Linked DNA regions of Homo sapiens: all the other regions are reported to be linked to region 1. The links are microRNA targets in miRTarBase. Many come from high-throughput screens and were not tested one by one. Region 1 holds a microRNA gene; each other region holds the end of a gene's coding sequence. Distances are between the middles of the regions.
The links. Region 1 holds the annotated microRNA hsa-miR-1200 (CUCCUGAGCCAUUCUGAGCCUC, at 1,456-1,477, shown strand). A microRNA usually pairs through its seed, bases 2 to 8, with sites in the 3' UTR of a target mRNA and lowers its output. Matches are read on the target gene's strand: a 7mer-m8 pairs with bases 2 to 8, a 7mer-A1 pairs with bases 2 to 7 and ends in A, and an 8mer does both.

Region 2: the mRNA of SIGLEC8 is a reported target of hsa-miR-1200. Seed matches in the 3' UTR shown: 7mer-m8 at 2,184-2,190, 7mer-A1 at 2,077-2,083 and 8mer at 2,012-2,019.
Region 3: miRTarBase lists POLR1F as a target of hsa-miR-1200. Seed matches in the 3' UTR shown: 7mer-m8 at 1,032-1,038.
Region 4: miRTarBase lists LYPLA2 as a target of hsa-miR-1200. Seed matches in the 3' UTR shown: 7mer-m8 at 641-647.

The regions. Positions count from the first base shown.
Region 1 is chr7:36,917,682-36,920,879 of GRCh38, reverse strand. MIR1200 (microRNA 1200) reads left to right here and starts at 1,448; the gene lies at 1,448-1,523. All of the region lies in intron 16 of ELMO1 (engulfment and cell motility 1), which reads left to right.
Region 2 is chr19:51,449,421-51,452,618 of GRCh38, forward strand. It overlaps SIGLEC8 (sialic acid binding Ig like lectin 8), which reads right to left. Exons shown (of 7, transcript NM_014442.3): 7 at 1,577-3,198. The coding sequence ends at 2,959. Among named protein-coding and RNA genes, the nearest start is that of SIGLEC8, 7.4 kb to the right of the region's middle.
Region 3 is chr7:19,695,916-19,698,915 of GRCh38, reverse strand. POLR1F (RNA polymerase I subunit F) reads left to right here. Exons shown (of 4, transcript NM_001002926.2): 4 at 189-3,000. The coding sequence ends at 600. Among named protein-coding and RNA genes, the nearest start is that of MIR3146, 8.0 kb to the left of the region's middle.
Region 4 is chr1:23,794,401-23,797,475 of GRCh38, forward strand. LYPLA2 (lysophospholipase 2) reads left to right here. Exons shown (of 10, transcript NM_007260.3): 9 at 27-200; 10 at 282-1,139. The coding sequence ends at 332. It overlaps GALE (UDP-galactose-4-epimerase), which reads right to left. Exons shown (of 12, transcript NM_001008216.2): 7 at 2,634-2,747; 8 at 2,476-2,542; 9 at 2,297-2,382; 10 at 2,109-2,186; 11 at 1,751-1,865; 12 at 1,199-1,607. The coding sequence ends at 1,549. Among named protein-coding and RNA genes, the nearest start is that of LYPLA2, 4.8 kb to the left of the region's middle.

The sequences.
Region 1 (3,198 bases):
TAGATGAAGACCTTGACACTGCTCATGGAGACCTATAAAAAGGATTTGGGGTTCATAGAGAAGAGAGTGACTTGTGGGAGAGTTAAGAAGGACTTTTCAAGCAAGACGGCATTTCAGGAGACACAAGGTGGTCAGTCTAACAGTAGAAAATGAAATCAGCAGTAGAAAACAACATGGAAAATTCTGTTCTTAAATTACCATGTTGGAGAGGGATTTAATATGGCTATGTTTTATGCCAGATTTTTTTAAAAGCCTTTCATGCATAAAACTATAGTGATCTATTTAGATTCATTAAAATATGTGCACATATATATGCATGAATTTCATTATGTGGATATGTAAATTAATGTATTGGGTGAGAGATTATGTTTTAGAATATAAACCAAAAACCATGTTGTGATTAACTTTAAAGAACCATCTAGTTTTGGACATTGTGGCAGTTGTTTTTAATATCCACAAATCAGCTGAATTAGGAAACATAAACTATATGTTTGGACTTCATATTTAGAGCTATATGAGGTCAGCCTCTTCCTCCAGAGGCACTGCCAGATGATAGTTGCTTGCATGGGGCAACAGTCCAATGAAACAATTAATCCAAATCTCATTCAGAGATGAGAAGCAACTTATTTCATTCACTCATTCATTCATTTTCACATACTCATTGACTTCTATTCAGCAAATATTTTTCAGGTAGTTCATAAGCCCTGTAGTTGACTGTGTGGTGGCCTGGCCAAGGGGCATATTAGCCAGAGTAGAAGAGGCAAGAGCTGGGTCTTAGTGGCCAGGCTGAAGGGATAAAGTGTGAGGTTGGCCCTTGCAGAAGAAAGTGATTGGACATCATTCCAGAGTAGAGTGCCCAAAGGAAAGAACCAAAGCATCCCTGATCCAGGCCACTGTTGATGTCAAAAGGGGTGGGGCTTTTGGCATCTCATAGGGCGTTCCCAGTCGTGACACATTATAGTTCTGAATGGTTCACATAATTAAGGCATTGATTCGTTCCTTAAATGAATCAGAGGAAGGGAGATGGAAATGATTAGACAGGTTGTTTTATTTGCAGTCACATTAGCAATAGGGTTCAGGAAGGGCTCCCATTCTGATGGGAGCTTTGGATTGCAGAAACTCTTCCCCGTGAGCCCAGCATCGATCACAGAGCTTGGAAATACAAACTAGAGTTTCATGAGCAATGGGGAATCAGAGCTTCTTTTAGGATACTTGATACTGAGTGTGCAGCAACACACTTTGATTGGCAGCAGCCTCCCTTCCACAGTTGCCAGGCCTACTCTGTTCTAGGCACTGAGTGTACATTATCTAATTATCATAGCAACCCAGCAAGGTTGATGCCATTATCCCATTTTACAGATGAAGAGACTTAGCCCATAAGTGAGAGAACCAGGTTTCAAATCCAGAGTTCTGTGACCCCAAAGCCCACATTCTTCCTAGTTTACTATGCTACTTCTCCTGAGCCATTCTGAGCCTCAATCACTTGCCAGAGAGATTGGTTCAGGAATTTGTCAGGGATAGCCTGAAGTCCCAAAGTCTTCAGCCAGCATCTGAGCAGTGTTAGAAAAGGCTGAGACTCACACGATGCTATATGCTGTGGGAAATGTAATAGACATGAACGATTATCCTAGTCACTATTAACCAAATGCTGGATAACATGGAGCACATAGTGACATTCAACAGAGTTACATTCTCTGCCTTCTAGGATCTTGCAACCCAAGGTGCATATTTACTTGCTTGAATATTGAGCTGTGAGAAGAAAAGTTGCTACGTTTGTGCAAGTTCTATTTATTATGGATGCTAAATTCCTATAAGTTAGCTGAACCATCCCTAGAATAAAGTACTTTATTTTAGCCCAAGTGCCAACTGACTGACTGACTGACTGAATGAATGAATGAATGAATGAAGGCATGCTTGCTTGCTCTTATAGATTAACTCTCTTGCTATGGGTAAACCAAAAGAAAAAAAATATTTTTCCTTACCCCTTAAAGTGAGTCTACTTTGTTTTGTGGGAGGTAGCAATTTATAGACCTGTCTACACATTATTTTCTAAAACTCAAGTATTTTGGAAGAGCAGATGGGGTACCATACTGTATACACTAATCATATATTTTGAAATGTATTTCTTTTTGAGCAGTTTGGTGACGCTTTATTTAGCAAAAGCCCTTGAAAGTTTCAAAAGCAACAATCCAAAGAACATGAGTGGCTGAGAGCACAGCGGACAGACAGACCCTCCAGCACAAGGCTAATGCTTTTCAAAATGTACTGTGGACCCTGGCCCTGGCCCCTATTCCTCCTGCCCTTAGAGATGATGATACACATTGTCACTGGGGGAGGGAACGAGTGGATTGGGCCTGATTATCTGAATTTTCTGTGAATCCCCTGGGTGACTGTGATATGCACCCAGGGTGGAGAACTAGCCTTCTACACTCATATCTGAGTGCTACTCTTCTTACCTCATTCTCTTGAGACTCATATTTTCACTTATAAAATTATTAGAGAAGCAAAAGAAAACCCCATCCCTTTTACATTTTCTGAGAGCCACAGGGGGAGCAAATAGGTGTTGAGCACCTCCTACATTGCCAGAAGTTTGACTTATAGATCTGGTTTAATCTGTACAAGAACTCAACAATGTTTAAAGAATTAATTGGCCCTCAGATATGGAGTTGAGTTATGCATACTGCTCAGTTCATAGCTTATTGTCACCCTAAGGCCATGCAAGACCCTCCTCTTATTTTGTTATTGTTCCTCTTCACCCCCCATTCCCTACACCCATTTCCTTCCCTCCTCAGAGAACCACCTAATATGCTAGAACTAAAATGAATGTCTTTACAAAATTATATATTATTTTTGTGTGTGTTTGTTTTAATTTACATAAATGATAAATCTCTGTAATATAGACTATATAGAAAGTAAGAATGCTTATTTTTTCACTCAGTATTATGTTTTCAGATATATCTATGTTGTATAAACTTCCCACATTTGCATAATATTTCATTGTCTGCATTTATTCCATTTTGTTTATATCTTCCCCAGTTGATAGACACTCAGCTCCCTGCTACCACAGAGAATTCTGCAGCTAACATCCTTATTTGTGACCCTTGGGGACCTTTGTGAGAGTTATATCTGGGATACGTGTCCAGGAGTTGGATCCTGGGGTCCAGATGTGATGTATGCCTCTTTAATTTCAGATTGTTT
Region 2 (3,198 bases), not on the chromosome of region 1:
GAGCCAGCCCTCTTGAGAGTCACTCTGAGGCCTGCAGAGACAGGATGGGTCCAGTTCCCAGTGCATAGCAGGTGCCAGCAGGTGTGTTGGTGTCAGGTGTGTTGGCTTCTTAGGGCTTCCATATCAAATTCCCACAAACTTGGTGACTTAAAGCCACAGAAATTTATTCTTTGACGTTATGAAGGCCAAATGTCCCAAGTCATGGTGTCATTGGGCTGTCTCCCTCGGAAAGTGCTGGGAAGACTCTTCCTGGCGTCTTCTAGCTTCTGGGGGCTGTGGCAGCAAAACCCCAACCTCTGCCTCCGCTGTCACGTGGCCTTCCTCCCTATGTGTGTCTTGTGTTCAATTTCCCTTATTGCATTAGGACACCAGTCATGGCACTTAGGGCCCACCTCATACAGTATGACCTCCTAATATTAGCTTGGCTACATCTGCAAAGACTATTTCCAAATAAAGCCACAGACATAGATACTGGGAGTTAGGACTTGAACATATCTCTCTGGGGGACAAGATTCAACCCACAACAACTCCATTATCAGGATGATGAGACCCTCTGATGTTTCCTGTGTCCATCTCCAGCCCCTCCCTCTGTCCCTCCTGAGCTGCTGAATGTCATCTCCACAGGACATCCTGGATACTCTCGAAAGGCCAGCATGGGAATCCAACCTCATTGTTCCTATCTCAGCCCTGCCCCAAATCCTAGAGAGAAATGGAAACATCTCAATACACTATCATACAAATATGTTCACAGCAGCTGTCTTGATAATTGCCACAACCAAAACAGTATCAATGAATAGGAAAAAATAAGGGAATGAATTGTGATTTGCTCATACAATGCAATGGTGTCCTACTCAGCAATAAAGAGGAAAAGATACTGACACACACAGCATGGATGAATCTCAAAACATGCAATGCGGCCGGGTGCGGTGGCTCATGCCTGTAATCCCAGCACTTTGGGAGGCCGAGGTGGGTGGATCACAAGGTCAGGAGATCGAGACTATCCTGGCCAACATGGTGAAACCATGTCTCTACTAAAAATACAAAAATTAGCTGGGTGTGGTGGCGTGCGCCTGTAGTTCCAGCTACTCAGGAGGCTGAGGCAGGAGAATCACTTGAACTCGGGAGGTGGAGGCTGCAGTGAGCCGAGATCACGCCACTGCACTCCAGCCTGGGAGACAGAGTGAGACTCTGTCTTCAACAACAACAACAACAACAACAACAACAACGCAACACTGAGTGAAAAACAAAAGACACAAGAATACACATTGGGTGATGCCAATTATATGAAGTTCAAGGGACATGGAAAATAATATCTGGTGATAGGAATCAGAAAGTGGTGGCTCTCAGGGCTAGGGATTGACTGGGAAGGACACCAGGATCTTTCTGGAGTGAAGGAAAATTTCTCTATCCTTGATTGAGAAGCTGGTTACACAGGGGTGCATGTTTGGCAACACTCATGGCATGGCACATGTAAGAGCTGCGTGATTCAACTGAAAAGCTAACGCTATTTTTAAATTTCAAAGAACAATGTGTTAGCCTGTTTTCACACTGCTATTAAGAAATACCTGAGACTGAGTAATTTATAAATGAAAGAGGTGTAATTGACTCACAGTTCCACATGGCGGGGGAGGCCTCAGGAAACTTACAATCATGGCGGAAGGGGAACCAGGCACATCTTACATGGTGGCAGGCAAGAGAGAAGAGCAGGGGAAACCACCACTTACAAAACCATCAGATCTCGTGATAACTCACTCACTATCAGAACAGCATGGGGGAACCACCCCCATGATCCTATCACCTCCCACCAGGTCCCTCCCCCAACACATGGGGATTATAATTCTGATTACAATTCTAGATAAGATTTGGGTGGGGACACAGCCAAACCATATCAAACAAACAACCTGCAATAAAAAAAAACGTTTTAAATTGGGGGTAAACAAAATAAGTACAGACCCGCCATACAGGTTGGGCAGGGGGTCCCGGCCTTCATCTCCTCAGTGCACCTGTCTTGTTCCTGAGACTCTAGGCCATTGCTGCTCCCTCTTTTGTAAAAGTCAATGCCCTCAAGGAATTTATTTCCTGAAAACTTATGGCTAAGGGGTGCCCAGCCTGCTGATTGCTTGACTCAGTGCTAGATGAGAGAAGAGACCTCAGAATCGGACAGGCTTTAAATTCCAGCCCTGTCCTGAGTAGCCGAGTGGCCTTGAGAGAGACCCAGTGAGATTTCCACACCCGGATACATCGTGGAACCATCAAGGCACAATGATTAGCACACCCATCTGTGCAAATATTTATCTGTTTTTGTGAGACCATTTAAAATCTTCTTTTAGCTCCTTGAAAATATTCAATGCAAGCTGGGTGCGGTGGCTCATGCCTGAAATCCCAGCACTTTGGGAGGCCAAGGCAGGCAGATCACTTGAGGTCAGGAGTTTGAGACTAGCCTGGCCCACTTATAGTGAAACCCCGTCTCTACTAAAAAATACAAAAATTAGCTGGGCGTGGTGACACACGCCTGTAGTACCAGCTACTTGGGAAGCTGAGGCAGGAGAATCGTTTGAACCCAGGAGGTGGAGGTTGCAGTGAGCAGAGATTGAACCACTGCACTCCAGCCTGGGCAACAGAGCGAAACTCCATCTCTCAAAGAAAAAAAAATATTCAGTGCTTGATTCTGTCATTTGAGAGAACATGGATGAACCTAGGGGATATTTTTTTGTGTAAAATGAGCCACACACAGAGAGGCAAGTACCACATGACCTCATCTCTATGTGGAATCTAAAATAGTCAACCTCAGAGAGGTCGAGAGGAGAATGGTGGGTAGTAGAAGCTAGAGGCAGGGATGGGTCCCTGGTAGCCGGGGAAAGGGGAGACATTGGTCCAAGTTTTGGTTAGACAGGAGGAGGGAGCCCTGGTGACCTACTGCATAGCATGGGGCTCTAGAGGGTTCTTGTTCTATGAGAATCAGCCTCTGACTTCTTTGCTGGAGGGGTTGTGATTCCTCAAACAGGCCTGAGTCTCTGCAGTTTCTCGCTTGTGGATCTTGATCTCCGAGTATTCACTGTCAGTGGCCTCCTGTCCCTGCGGGTCCTGAGGCTTCACTTTATGGAAGCTGAGGGTTGCATAATGGAGCTCTCCTTCCTCCCCTGACGAGGGGGCAACAGCTGGGGGAGGCTTCTTCAGGGGGTTGCCATCTTTCCAGGA
Region 3 (3,000 bases), 17 Mb from region 1:
GCAGCCCATACATATTTTAGTGGGTTGAGGGATAACAGGATAGAATATTTGGAATTTATGCCATGGTTATGTGTCTTGTACTGGAGTCATTATTTAGAAAATCTTAGCCTGTTGGGATATCTTGATCTCAATTTGTTCTTTGTTTTTTGCTTATTGTTCTGTTAATTTTTTTAACTGTTAATTTATAGTTTACAATTCAAGCGCTCTGAAGTTTCTGAAGAAGTTACAGAAAATGGCACTGAGGAAGCTGCTAAAAAACCTAAAAAGAAGAAAAAGAAGAAAGACCCAGAGACATATGAAGTGGACAGTGGTACCACAAAGCTAGCAGATGATGCAGATGACACTCCAATGGAAGAGTCAGCCCTGCAGAATACTAATAATGCGAATGGCATCTGGGAGGAGGAGCCAAAGAAAAAGAAGAAGAAGAAAAAGCACCAGGAAGTTCAGGACCAGGACCCTGTTTTCCAAGGCAGTGACTCCAGTGGTTACCAAAGTGACCATAAAAAGAAAAAAAAGAAAAGAAAACACAGTGAAGAGGCCGAATTTACCCCACCTTTGAAATGCTCACCAAAAAGAAAAGGGAAAAGTAATTTTCTTTAGTGTATTTTAAACACGATTCAGTTTTTAAAAGATCGATCTACATACAATAGATGAATAAATGTTTTCAGTGATATGAAAAGGTTAAGTATGCCAGTAGTTTACAAAACAGAAAATACTTAACTAGGAGTAGGAGGCTTTATATGCTAAAAATGATAAAACTGACTGTAAATTAATTTGGGGAAAGCCAGTATTGTTAAAATACCATTTTATACAAAATAAAAAGCTGCTCTCACTGTCAGCTCTCATATTCTTCCAGGTTTTGCACTCTACATAAAATTATTTCTACAATGTCAAGACTAGCCAAAGGACTTTATAATACAATATTATATTACTAAAGAATGAGTTAAGTTTGAGATTTTGATGATTTGATTTTGTGTGTGTTTAATAGGCTTCACCTTATTACATGCTATTTTATTTTGCTTTTTTAAAAACTCAGGACATTAACTAATTTTAGGTTTTCCTTTATCATGGCTTTCTACAGTATTTCTATTGTTTAACATAAAATAGTTTGCCAAAGAAGTTTCTGAAGTCTTCACAGCTCTTAAAAGCCAGGCCAGTACTGACTGTGTGGTGGTAAATGCTATTCATTATTTTCTTTTCTTTCTTCCAAGTGCATGTGTGTCCTTGTCTTCTTAAGTCTGAGAGGTTGCTGGAAAGGACTGTTTTCTTGTACTTGTTCATTTGTGCCTCAGCCATTCTAGTTTTGTTGTGTGTTGGAGGACAGTCTAATGAAGACAGGATAAATGTGATTCTGACTAGTGGGAAATTTCAGATTACTTTTTAATGATTGGAATGGGCTATAAGATATTGTGCTGAAGAGAAAACAGTTGTTCTGTTCACTGCTTTCATTGAGAAAATGTGGAATGTCTCTTGACTAATTGACAAAGTGTAATGAAATGACAAGCTGGTTGAAGCTGGTAATCAATGCATGGCCATATTTATTCATTTTCCACACACTTGACCATCTACTTTGTATAACACATTCTGCTAAGGCCCAGGGATACAATGGCAAACAAGATAGATGTAGTTCCTTCCCTTGTGGCATGTCATAAGAGAAACAGATGTGCATATACACACAATAAATAAGAAAATTAATAATTGTATTAAGTGGTATGAAAAAAAGGGGGAGGATTGTTCACTCACTGTTACCTGTGTTAGTATCTGCAAATGCATGAATGGTTGAACTCCCATGTCAGCATTTTTGTTGCCATTTATTTAGTACCAGACATAGTGCTGGTCTCACAGCTTAATATTTGGTAATGAATAAATTCTGCTAGTGGTATATGTTGATCTGAACTTACAATGATGGGATATAGAATTGGCAGAGTGGCAGATGTTCACAATTGTCTACAAGTAGATGTGCTAGACAATGGAAGGATGCAGGCCAACCTCTTTGATTACAATTGAGATTCATGTGACTATTGAGCCCTGGAAATGTAGCTTGTCCAAATTGAGATGTGCTGTCAGTATAAAATACATACCAGATTTTAAAGATGTACCAAAAAATGTAAACTATCTCAATTTTTATATTGGTGAAATCAATATGTCTTGGTATAGTGGCTTAAATAAAACAATTTTAGCCTTTCTCAGTTTATTTTTCTGCAAAAAGATTAAAAATTGTACATGAAGCTCATGTTAACTTTCTTTTGGTCAGTGCTATTTTAAAGGAAGTATGAGTTGAAAAAAAATTGAAATAAACTATATCATATTACTAGGACTTAATATAGTGGCATACCCAGGAAATGCTTAGTAAGTGTTCCCTTCACATTTTAAAATTTGAGTATACAATCATGTTTGACAATATAGAAATTTAATTTTTAGTGAAACAATTCTAAACCCCTTTTCCATAGACACAAGAAAGATGGCAAATTTATGCTATTCCTGGAAAAATACATTGTGGCTTAGCAAATAAGCAAGTTCCCACGTTACTTTTGTTTTGCTTCAAGTAATACTTCTGCCAGTTGTGTTTTATGAATTAAACAGGGAACGGCATGCTGAACTTGAAACTAGATTTGTTCCTGCTTTTTTCACAATGTGAGTAGTTTTGAAAAGTCAGATCTGGCCATTTGTCTTTCCTAGAATAGCATAACTTTGTTCATTGTTTTTTTTGTTTGTCTTTCTGACACAGAAAGACTGATGATGGTGTCCACTATGTATTCTTCAAAACATTTGGCACATGCTGCACTAACCTAGTCTATCTTTTCTATCTTGGAATTTGCTCATACAAACCCTATAGCCTAGACTAGATCCCTTACCCTCTCTCCAGTTCCTATCATTCACCCATTTCACTGTGCAAGACACCTCACTAGTCACCAGTGATACAGAAATGACTTTTAAGCAGTTTCTGCTCTTAAGGGCTTACCGTTTTGTCTATAAGATACACAAGTATAAATGACAAGT
Region 4 (3,075 bases), not on the chromosome of region 1:
TGCCCTGAGTCCTGTCCGGCCTCCAGGCAGCTAATGGCAGTGCCAAGGACCTGGCCATACTCCAGTGCCATGGGGAGCTGGACCCCATGGTGCCCGTACGGTTTGGGGCCCTGACGGCTGAGAAGCTCCGGTCTGTTGTCACACCTGCCAGGGTCCAGTTCAAGACATACCCGGGTGTCATGCACAGCTCCTGTCCTCAGGTCAGTGGGGGGACCATTTCCCACTCCCACTTCTCTGCCTCCAGCCAGGTGCCTCTCGTGATCCCCTCTTAATCCCCTCAGGAGATGGCAGCTGTGAAGGAATTTCTTGAGAAGCTGCTGCCTCCTGTCTAACTAGTCGCTGGCCCCAGTGCAGTACCCCAGCTCATGGGGGACTCAGCAAGCAAGCGTGGCACCATCTTGGATCTGAGCCGGTCGAGCCCCTGTCCCCACCCTTCCTGACCTGTCCTTTTCCCACAGGCCTCTGGGGGCAGGTGGCAAGGCCTGGCCGGGCCTTCCTTCCTGGCCTTAGCCACCTGGCTCTGTCTGCAGCAGGGGCAGGCTGCTTTCTTATCCATTTCCCTGGAGGCGGGCCCCCCTGGCAGCAGTATTGGAGGGGCTACAGGCAGCTGGAGAAAGGGGCCCAGCCGCTGACCCACTCACTCAGGACCTCACTCACTAGCCCCGCTTTGGGCCCCCTCCTGTGACCTCAGGGTTTGGCCCATGGGGCCCCCCCAGGCCCCTGCCCCAACTGATTCTGCCCAGATAATCGTGTCTCCTGCCTCCACTCAGCTGCTTCTCAGTCATGAATGTGGCCATGGCCCCGGGGTCCCCTTGCTGCTGTGGGCTCCCTGTCCCTGGGCAGGAGTGCTGGTGAGGAGGTGGAGCCTTTTGAGGGGGGCCTTCCCTCAGCTGTTTCCCCACACTGGGGGGCTGGGCCCTGCCTCCCCGTTACCCTCCTTCCCTGCAGGCCTGGAGCCTGTAGGGCTGGACTGAGGTTCAGGTCTCCCCCCAGCTGTCTCACCCCCACTTTGTCCCCACTCTAGAGCAGGGAGGCAGTGGGGGAGGAGTTGTGTCTCGTCTTCTGTCTCCATGTGGTTTTTGGGTGTTTTTCTTGTTGTGTCCTGGATTCCGATAAAATTAAAGAAATTGCTTCCTCAACGCTCAGGCCTGGCTGATTCTATTCCAGGGGTGGATAGTGACCATCTGTGAGAACCTGCCCCAGTGTAAGAAAACTTGTTTTTATTTTTAAATACTTTGGAAAGCTCTTTCAGAGCAATATAAATGAGTGCCTGGGAGGAGGAGGTTTTGTGCCAGAGCCTTGCCCCCTCACTCACTCTTGGGGGTCCTGATGAACTCTTGGACCCTGTGGAAGATAAGAGTTAGAGACCTCGGCCTCCTGGTCAGTGGAGCCCTTGGCCTCATGCCTGGTGGGCTAAGCGGGCCCAGCTGGGGTTTGAGGTAGGGGAGGCCTTGGCTTGGCCCCAGCAGCTCCAGGGCCCTGAGTTCCTGCCAGAGGCTGGAGAGCAGGCAGCTGCTGCTTTTCCTGGTCCTTGGTAGGGGAGGGTCCTCAGGCTTGCGTGCCAAAGCCTGAAGGATTCTGCTTCTGCCAGCGCCAGAGATCCTCACCTGCAACACGGCGAGGTGTGTGCTCAGGGCCCACGGTGGAATGCAGAGCCTCCCCCACCCCACAGCCCGCCCTGGGTGGGCATGCCCAGATCTGATTTAGCCCCTCCCTGGCCCCTAACTGCAGGGGTCAGGCCAGCACTCACACATCCTGTCCAGCCCTAAGGCTGCTGTCCACCCCAGCTCCTCTTGGGCCAGGCTGGGGTTGGCGTAACAGGCTGCCACATCACCTTCCCGCCGTGCCACCACCTTGTACGGGATCTGCAAGACAGGAGGTAGTTGGAGCTTAGCTGAGCCGGCCCTGGCCCAGCTGCTGGCCAGGTCTTTAAGAAGCAGAAGTGCAGAGCAGCGGCTGGCCCGCAGGCACCGGGTGCTAGGCAGGCTGAGGAGACTGGGCAGTGCCAGGTACCCTCCAGAGAGGTGAGTGGGAAGGGCCAAAGCTGCTCTGTTGCTGAGAGCTGGGTGGGGTGAGGTGGGTGAGGTGGGTGGGGCGGGGGGGCCTACCTTCTTCCCAGAGGCCTTCTCCATAGCCTGGACCATCTGCAGCACTGAATAGCCTGTGCCCGTGCCCAGGTTGTAGATCTGGCCCACGGAGAACAGGGTTTATGGAGCGGGCTGGACTGACCACGCCTCTGGGCCGCTCTGCCTGGATCTGGTCCCTCCCCTCCCTCACTTCTCCCTTCTCTTCCTACCCGGCAGCCACACTGTTCTTTCAGCTTCCTTAAGGCTGCAATGTGGCCCTTGGCCAGATCCACGACATGGATGTAATCCCGGACACCTGCAGAGAAGGGAGTGTGTTGGATGGGGAGTCTGTTCCCCCTGACTCTCCTTCCTGGCTCCCACTCCTAGGTCCCCCTGGTCCTAGGCTCACCTGTGCCATCCTCTGTGTCATAGTCATTGCCAAAGACATTCAGGGCCTCCCGTCGCCCGATCGCCACCTGGAGGTGGAGATCAGGTCAGTTCGTCCCAGATCCCAGGCACCAGCTTTAACCCCAGGGCCACTCCTCTGTCCCTTCCCTTTTGCCTTACCTGGGAGACATAAGGCATGAGGTTGTTGGGTATGCCCTGGGGATCCTCACCAATGCAGCCAGAGGCATGGGCACCTGTGGGGTTGAAATAGCGCAGCAGCACTGCGTTCCAAGTCTGTGGGATGTGGGTCAGGTGGTGAGGCCAGAGGCACAGGCAGCGTGTCCCAGCTGAACCCAGAGCCCTCCTCATGCCTATTCTGTTTTTTTGAGATGGAGTCTCACTATGGCCCAGGCTGGAGTGTAGTGGCCTGATTTGGCTCACTTCAACCTCTGCCTTCCAGGTTCAAGCAATTCTTGTGCCTCAGCCTCCCGAATAGCTGGGACCACAGGCACACACCACCATGGCCGGCTAATGTTTGTATTTTTAGTAGAGATGGGGGTTTTACCATGTTGTCCAGGCTGGTCTTGAACTCCTGACCTCAGGTGATCTGCCCACCTGGGCC